Linked DNA regions of Homo sapiens: regions 1 and 3 are each linked to region 2. The links come from fine-mapping of genetic effects on plasma protein levels. A gene starts in region 2. Each other region holds a variant in brackets. All regions are shown on one strand. Distances are from middle to middle. Region 1 has its middle 9.4 kb from the start of HSPA12B. Region 2 holds the start of SIGLEC1 (sialic acid binding Ig like lectin 1). Region 3 overlaps SIGLEC1 (sialic acid binding Ig like lectin 1).

What was found. PIP is the posterior inclusion probability: the model's chance that the variant is causal. The UK Biobank Pharma Proteomics Project read protein levels with antibody pairs (Olink). The fine-mapping took linkage between variants from a reference panel, not from the people measured, so its PIPs are less certain.
Region 1: its variant is fine-mapped to the plasma level of the SIGLEC1 protein (UK Biobank, PIP above 0.99).
Region 3: its variant is fine-mapped to the plasma level of the SIGLEC1 protein (UK Biobank, PIP above 0.99). The variant lies in the coding sequence of SIGLEC1. If it changes the protein, the assay may bind it differently, which can mimic a change of level.

The regions. Positions count from the first base shown.
Region 1 is chr20:3,721,924-3,724,679 of GRCh38, forward strand. No RefSeq gene overlaps it. Among named protein-coding and RNA genes, the nearest start is that of HSPA12B, 9.4 kb to the right of the region's middle. The variant G/A (reference allele first, on the strand shown) is at 1,517.
Region 2 is chr20:3,711,437-3,714,192 of GRCh38, forward strand. SIGLEC1 (sialic acid binding Ig like lectin 1) reads right to left here and starts at 1,164. Exons shown (of 22, transcript NM_023068.4): 1 at 1,034-1,164.
Region 3 is chr20:3,691,345-3,694,100 of GRCh38, forward strand. It overlaps SIGLEC1 (sialic acid binding Ig like lectin 1), which reads right to left. Exons shown (of 22, transcript NM_023068.4): 14 at 2,103-2,354; 15 at 1,518-1,787; 16 at 1,177-1,428; 17 at 559-858; 18 at 1-256. Among named protein-coding and RNA genes, the nearest start is that of ADAM33, 11 kb to the left of the region's middle. The variant G/A (reference allele first, on the strand shown) is at 1,652.

The DNA of each region.
Region 1 (2,756 bases), 10 kb after region 2:
AGAAGAAGAAAACTCCAGAATATATAAAAATGAAAAGAGGGCGGAAGAGTGGAACTGCGGGGTAGAAAATTTTGCATTTTGTTTCATCTCTCTGTATATGTTGAACTTTTTTTTTAACCTACATGTACTACGTCATATCCACAGCCCCCAACCATCCACCAGGCATCAACTGCTGTGTTTATATGGAGGGTTGAGCAATCATTCCTGCCTCCTTCCAGTTCGTCTTCCTGTACTGCAGAGGCTAGAAAACTAAATTTATATCACCCAGATTCCCTTCCAGCTACCTTAATGCTACCACCTCATTCAGCCATCATTGATTCTCCACTTCACCAAACTGGTCAATAATTGTCTCTTCTAAAAATATTAGAATTGGGACTAAGAGACACTACAGCTGACCCTTAAACAACATGGGTTTGAACTGTGCTAGTCTGCTTATACACAGATTTTTAAAAAAATAAACATATTGAAAAAAATTTTGGAGAGATGTGACAATTTGAAAAAACTCACAAACCACATAGCTAGAAATATCAAAAAAAAAAAAACTGAAACAGAGTTAGGTAGGTCAGGAATGCATAAATATATATGTTAATTGGCTGTTTATATTATTAGTAGGGCTTCCAGTCAACAGAAGGCTATTAGTAATTAAGTATTTGAGTCAAAAGTTATACACAGATTTTTGATGATGAGGAGGATTAGTGCCCCCAACCCCCATGTTGTTCAAGGGTTAGCTATATTTGAAATCTGCTGGTAGCTGGAATTGGGCAACTAAATTCACGAGATGTGGAACGGTCGTATACATGGAGAATAAATAAATAAATAAATAAATAAATAAGTATTTGTTGGCCTGGTGCAGTGGCTCATACCTGTAATCCCAACACTTTGGGAGGCCAAGGCAGGCAGATGACTTGAGGTCAGGAGTTCGAGACCAGCCTGGCCAACATGGTGAAATACCGTCTCTACTAAAAATACAAAAATCAGCTGGGCGTGGTGGTGTGCACCTGTAATCCCAGCTGCTTGGGAGGCTGAGGGATGAGAATTGCTTGAACCTGGGAGTCAGAGGTTGCAGTGAGCCGAGATTGCACCACTGCACTCCAGCCTGGGCGAAAGAGTGGGACTCTGTCTCAACAACAACAACAAAAAAGCAATTGTTAAAAGAATAAGAAAACAAGCCACAGATTGGGAGAATATATTTGCAAAACAAATATCTGATGACCCAAAATACACAAAGAACTCTTAAAACCCAACACTAAGAAATCAAACAACCCCATTAAAAAATGGACAAACGGGCCAGGCATGGTGGCGGTGGCTCACATCTGTAATGCCAGCACTTTGGGAGGCCGAGCAGGGCAGATCACCTTAGGTCAGGAGTTCTCAACTAGCCTGGCCAACATAGTGAAACCGTCTCTACTGAAAATACAAAAATTAGCCGACCGTGGTGACGTGCATCTGTGGTCCCAGCTACTTGGGTGTCTGCGGCAGGAAAATAGCTTGAACCAGGGAGGTTGCAATGAGCTAA[G/A]ATCGCGCCACTGCACTCCAGCCTGGGCAACACAGTGAGACTCCGTCTCAAAAAAAAAAAATGGGCAAAAGATGTGAACAGACACCTCATCAAAGAAGATATACAGATGGAAGATAAGCATATGAAAATATGCTTAACCTGATGTCATTAAGGAATTACAAATTGAAGCAACAAGGTACCACTAAACCCCTATTAAAATGGTCAAAATCCAGAATGCTAAAAACACCAAATGCTGGTGAGGATGTGGAGTGACAGGACTCTCATTCGTTGCTGGTGGAAATGTAAAATGGTATGGCCATTTTTAAGACAGTTTGGCAGTTTCTTACAAAACTAAACATAGTCTTACCATACAATCTAACAATTACACTCCTAGATAGTTACCCAATTGAGGTGAAAACTTATATCCAGGGCCGAGCACAGTGGCTCACACCTGTAATCCCATCACTTTGGGAGGCCAAAGAGGAAGGATTGCTTGAGGCCAGGAGTTCTTTCTTTTTATTTATTTATTTATTTATTTTCTTTTGAGACAGAGTTTCGCTCTGTCACCCAGGCTGGAGTGCAGTGGAGTGATCTCATCTCACTGCAATCTCTGCCTCCCGGCTTCAAGCGATTCTCCTGTCTCGGCCTCTGAGTAGCTGCTGGGATTACAGGTGCACGCCACCATGCCCAGCTAATTTTTATATTTTTAGTAGAGACAGGGTTTCACCATGTCAGCTAGACTGGTCTTGAACTCCTGACCTCAAGTGACCTGCCTGCCTCGGTCTCCCAAAGTGCTGGGATTACAGGTGTGAGCTACTGTGCTCAGCCAAGGCCAGGAGTTCCAGACCAGTCCTGGCAACACAGTGATACTCTGTCTCTACAAAAAAAAATTTTTTTAATTAGTCACATGTGGTGGCACACACTTGTAGTGTCAGCTACTGGGGAGGCTGAGGCTGAGGATCACTTGAGCCCCAGGAGTTTGAGGTTGCAGTGAGCCACGATTATGCCTCTGCACTCCAGCGTGGGCAACAGAGTAAGAGAAAGAAAGAGAGAGAGAGAGAGAGAGAGAGGAAGGAAGGAAGGAAGGAGAAAAGAAACGAAAAGAAAAGAAGGAAGGAAGGGAAGGAAGGGAGGGAAGGAAGGGAGGAAGGAAGGAAGAAAGAAAGAAAGGAAAGAAATAAAAAAGGAAAAGAAAAGAGAGAGAGAAACCTTATATCCATACAAAACCCTGCGCAAGAATGTTTATAGCTGCTTTATTCAT
Region 2 (2,756 bases):
TGGGGAAGAAAGGGCAGAGGCAGTTTCCCTATGGACAGCTAGGCCCGGGTGTAGGATTCAGTTTCTGTTTCCTGACACCAAGGCTTCTCCCCAACTTCCCCATTGGGCTAGAGAAGGAAGAACACAGGGTGACATGGCCAGCTGGAGGTTACTGGCCCACAGATAGGGAGTCAGGGTACGGATGGGCAATTCCTGGAGCAGATTATGGTCAAAATAGTGGAAATCCCCAATCACAGGCCAAATGTTTAATTCTCAGAGCCATAGAATCCATAACTAATGCTTATTGGCTTTGACATGGGCAGTAGAAATTTCACACTTCATTCCTTAATCTGGCTCTAAATGCTTCTGGCTGGAGTGCTCACTCTCCAAACTGTGCTGGACAGCACCAGAAGCCCTCCTGTGGACGGACGAAGTGGTGATGGATGAAGTGGAATTGTGCTGGGGTTAGAGTAAGGAGAGATTATCGTTGGGCTGGGCTGGGGCTGAGGTCAGGGTGATGATCAGGTTGGAATTCTGGAAGCAAATTAAGGCTGGGATTGGGGTGGACATTGAGGTTGAGTGATGGGTGGGGGTAAGGGTGAAGGTTGGAGTTGGGTGCAGGTGATGGTTAAGATACGGTGGAGGCTGGGTTGAGATGAGGATGATAGAGTCGGAGTTGTGGTTAGGGTTGGGATGATGGATGGTTGGGATTAGATGAGATGAGTAAATGGTTAGGGTTGGGGTGCAAGTGAGGTGAGGGTGAGATAAGGTTGGAATAGGGGCTGGGGCTGGGGCTGAGGTAGGGTCAGAGCAGGGTGATGGTCGGGACTGGGATTGGGATGCAGGTTGGAAGGATTTGGGGGTGGTGGAAGGGTTTCAGTTGAGTCCATCTTTGATTAGTGTCTTGGACTTGGGTTGGTTTGGGGTCCACCACTCGCACCCAGATGGAGCCCCCCCCCGACCCCTGCCCCTATCCCGCTCAGCCAGTTTCAGCCCAGCCCCGCTCCTAATGCTCCACTCACCCTCTGGGCCCAGGGACCAGGGACAGGGGTACCTGCTCCACAGAAGGAAGTGGCTGCGGCGGTGCTGGACCTGCGGAGAGGAGAACAGGAAGGACGGCCAAGAGCTCCTGGTGCAGCTGGCTCCCCAGGGCTCTGCCGGCTCAAGAGAGAAGGATCCCGTATCAGGGGCTGCTTCCTCTTTCCCAAAGCCTCAGCTCTACTGTCCAACCCAGAGGCTGGTCAGGGAGGCAGCTGCAGGCCTTGCGCAATGCCAAAACGGGAAAGACCTCCATAGGGGAAGGCCCTCGGCAAGGCCAGGGACTTAGGGACTCCAGCAAGCAGAAGTGGGACCGCTGCAACGCTGGAGCCTCCCCAGGCAAAGTGAGAAATGGAGTGGGGGACTCCCATTCACCAGCCAAATCCACACCCCACTCTCTCTGAGCCCCTTAGGGAGGCTGGGGGAGGTGGAAGGGGGCTTCCTGCACACAGCTCTCCTCCCTGACACCTGAGAGGGAGGCGCGCCCAGCCTGGGGTGGGGATGCACTACACGATGCCCAGACCAAGGCAGTTATTCTCCAAGCCATTCAGGAGCCTCCCTGTACCACTGAGTACTCTTAAGAACCCCCAAGAGGCAGTCCCGTGTTGTGGGGGACATAAGGCCCCAATGTCCAGGACACTCCTCAGGTTTTCTCTTTCCCCTCTCACTGTCCTGTACGTTTTTTGGTTTTTGGCTTCTTGTTGTTGGTTTTTTTCTTTTTGTTTTGTTTTTGCTTTTGAGATGGAGTCTCACTCTGTCGTCCAGGCTGGAGTGCGGTGGCACAATCTCAGCTCACGGCAACCTCCACCTCCCGAGTTCAAGTGATCATCTTGCCTCAGCCTCTCGAGTAGCTGGGATTACAGGCATGCACCACCACATCCGGCTAATTTTTGTATTTTTGGTAGAGACGGGGTTTCACCATGTTGTCCAGGTTGGTCTTGAACTCCTGACCCCAAGTAATCTGCCTGCCTCGGCCTCCCAAAGTTCTGGGATTACAGAGGTGAGCCGCTGCACCCGGCCACTATCCTATACCTTCACCCCCACCTTGGGACAGGAAAGGAAAGCCCCCACCACAGCTAGTTACTGTTACATTACTGCAGCCCATCTTATTGAGGGCCTAGTTTGTGCAGGCACTTGACATGTGAAGCAGATGTTAATTGCTCCAAGCAATCCCAGATACAAGCAACAAGACTTTTTTTGGTTTTTGTTTGTTTGTTTGTTTTTGTTTTTTGAGACAGTGTCTTGCTCTGTCGCCCAGGCTGGGGTGTCCTGGTGCAATCTTGGCTCACTTTGGCTCACTGCAGCTTCGAAATTCTAGGCTTAAGCAATCCTCCTGCTTCAGCCTCCTAAGAAGCCGGGATTACAGGCGCTTGCCACTATGCACGGCTAATTTTTTAAGTTATTTTGTAGAGACGGAGTCTCCCTATGTTCCCAGGCTGGTCTCAAACACCTGGGCTCAAGTGACTCTCCCACCTCGACCTCCCAAAGTGCTGGAACTACAGGCGTAAGCCACCACTCCTGGCCATTTTTTTTTTTAATTTCACAACTCAAACTTAATTCAACTCAGTCCCTGCCTACCTGTACTGGTGGGGAGCTGGCCACAGCAAATTAGGCCCCTGTACCCTGAGGGCAAGGCCACGTGTGCAGGTGTAAAAGGATGTGAAACCCTAAATCAGGGTGGATCCAGAATCGCAGGCCATGGTGCCCCAAAGCAGATGTCTGGTGACATTCCACCCTGA
Region 3 (2,756 bases), 20 kb before region 2:
ACACGGAGCATGACTGGAGCAGAGGCAGCAGCCCCAGTGGGGAGCTCAGCCAGGCAGTGGTACATCCCAGCTTGAGCACGAGCCACGTGGGTGAAGGCGAGAGTGGGCACAGGCTCCGCGTGCAGCCGCCGGTCATTCCAGAACCATGCAAAGGTGGAGTTGCCCACAGGCCCAGGGCCACCCAGGAGGCGGCAGCTGAGGTTCAGGGCAGCGCCCTCAGGCACGTCCAGGCCAGGCTCTGCCACCACGCGTGCACCTGCGGGCGGAGGATAGAGAGATGATTGGGGATCTGTAGGCCTTGGGGGCTGGAGCCTCTGGGTGGGACCTCTGAGGGGCCTCTGCACATTGTGGGAAGGTCTCAGTCTGACTTGGTATAGGGCTTTCCAAGGTGGAACCATGCCCCCTCCAGTGGGAGCTGTGCCCCCTCCACCAGATTAGGCTTCTCAAGGCAGAGCTTTCTCAGACCAGACAGCCCGCTCTAGTGGGAGCTCCAGCCCCTCTCGTGGACTTGGACCTGAGAGCATCAGAGCCCCTCCTCCTCCCCTCTCTTCCACTCACCTTCTACCTGCAACCGCCCGATGGTGCTGATTGAGCCCAGCAAGTTTTGGGCTGTGCAAACATAGGTGTCATCACCTGCAGGCACATCTTGCACCTGCAGCCGTAGGGCGTTTCGGGCCACCTGGACATGGCCTGTCCCTGATGCCAAGCTGTGGACCCCGCTGCTCGTGGCCAGCACCTTGCCATCATGAGATAGGGCCAGCTCAGCAGGTGGCTCACTGTCCACAGTGCACTGTATCACAGCCATGGATCTGGCCCTGGAGTCCCGGAAGGAGGACAGGACAGCGTCCTGAGGGGCATCTGTGGGCAGGCAGGGCACAGATGGGGACCTTGCTTAGGCACCCTGTACTGCTCATTGCCTAGCTGCCTGGGGTTGGTCAGGCTGAGGCCTCTGGACCAATGGCCACTTCCTAGAAGTGACACCTTCCCAGGAGTCCTGTGGGCAGAGTGCTCCAGGCAGGGCTTATAGGACTGTCTCTTTCTCTAGCACCTATGTCCTCTTTCCCCAACTGCCCATTCCTGGGCCCACTGCAGTCCTTTGCCCACTCCCACCAGAGCCCAGAAGCACCCTCCACCACCCTCCTCCTGGGCAGCCCTGGCCAAGGACCCTCTGCTCACAGAGGACTTGCAGGGCAGCAGGACGGGAGCTGCGGGTGCCCTGGGCATCCTGGGCCTGGCAAGAGTAGGCGCCTGCATGAGCCCGCGTGGCCACCAGGAATGAGAGTGAGGCAGCTGGACCCTCCTGCAGCCAACGACCGTTGTGGTACCAAGTATAGAGTGTGGGTGCGTGGGCAGCAGGGTCCGCACAGGTCACTGTGATGGGGGCACCTTCAGGCACGGCAGCCTCCGGAGCCAGGATCACCCGCACACCTGTGCCAAGGAGGCCAGGATCAGCCGGGCCCAGCCGGACACCACAGTGGGCTTCCATCCCAGTGGGCTTGGCCTAGGCCCTGCCTTACCCTCCAGCCGCAGCTCCAGGGACGTGTTGGCCTGGCCCAGAGGGCTGCGGGCAGAGCAGCTGTAGAAACCCTCATCCCTGGGCTGTGGCCCTCGCAGCTCCAGGCGCAGGGTGTTGGGGACAGAGGCTGCTGTC[G/A]AGGAGGCCAAGAGGCGACCGGCGTGGCTGAGGGCCAGCTGGGCGGGCGGGCGGCTGTCCACAGTGCACAGTACCAGGGCCAGCTGCCCGCCATGGCTCTCCAGGAGGTAGGTCAGGCGCAGGTTGCGGGGCGCGTCTGCAGGGCATGAGAGGCTTACACGGAGTCACAGGCAGCAGCCTGCAGGAGGCCAGTTTGCAGGTGGCATTCAAACTCAGGAGGGCCCTGGCTCCCCACCCCTATGGCTCCCAACCACCCAGTCTGAGGCACTGCTCCTCTGCCCAGACAGGACTCACCCCAGCGCCCCCTACTCTTAATGCTCCTTGCCCAGTGCTCCACTAGCTACTGGGTACCGAGTTCCCCACTGGACACCTGTCGGGTTCCGGCCATGCCGTGATCCCTGTGGGCTTCTGTCATTCCTGTGAGTCCCACCCTGCATCCAGCCAGACTCACAGAGGACGTCCAAGGTGATAGGTCTGGAGAGGCGGGGTGCCCGACCAGGGGGGCCCACACCGCAGCGGTAGGAGGTGGCATCCCTGACTGTGACGTTGGGCAGGGGGATGGAGTGGGCATCCAGGCGCTGCTGCCCATCCTGGTACCATGTGTAGGTGAGCTGGGCCGGGTGAGTGGTCCACACAAGGCAGGTCAGGTTCACCAGCTGCCCCTCCCGCACGGTAGCCCCGGGCCACACCTGCACATTCACAGCTGGGGAGAGGGAGGGCACAGGACACCAGTGAGGGTCTTGAGGCTGTGTACAGCAGGCCACCTGTCTCCATGTGGGTGAGCTACTCCTACTGCTGGGGAGCCCCTTGGCCTTTGGGAGCCTTGGGTGGCCCACCTATAAATGTGGCTTAGAAGTCAAGCTTGGGAATAGCCCACTGGCTCCTGAGTGGTCCCAAGTAGAGTTCCACAGAGTCCTGGAAAGCCCTGAGCCCCTCCCTGACCCTGGCTGGGGGCAAATGGGGAGACCACAGACCTCCCCTCCCCTGCTGCACTTTCTCCTGAAATTCCCTGTTTAGTTTTATCCACTGGGCATACTTGTAAAATTTGGTGTTTATAAAAGGTTCTCCTAAGAAACTCAAGTCTGGAGTCCACCATCGTTAGGAA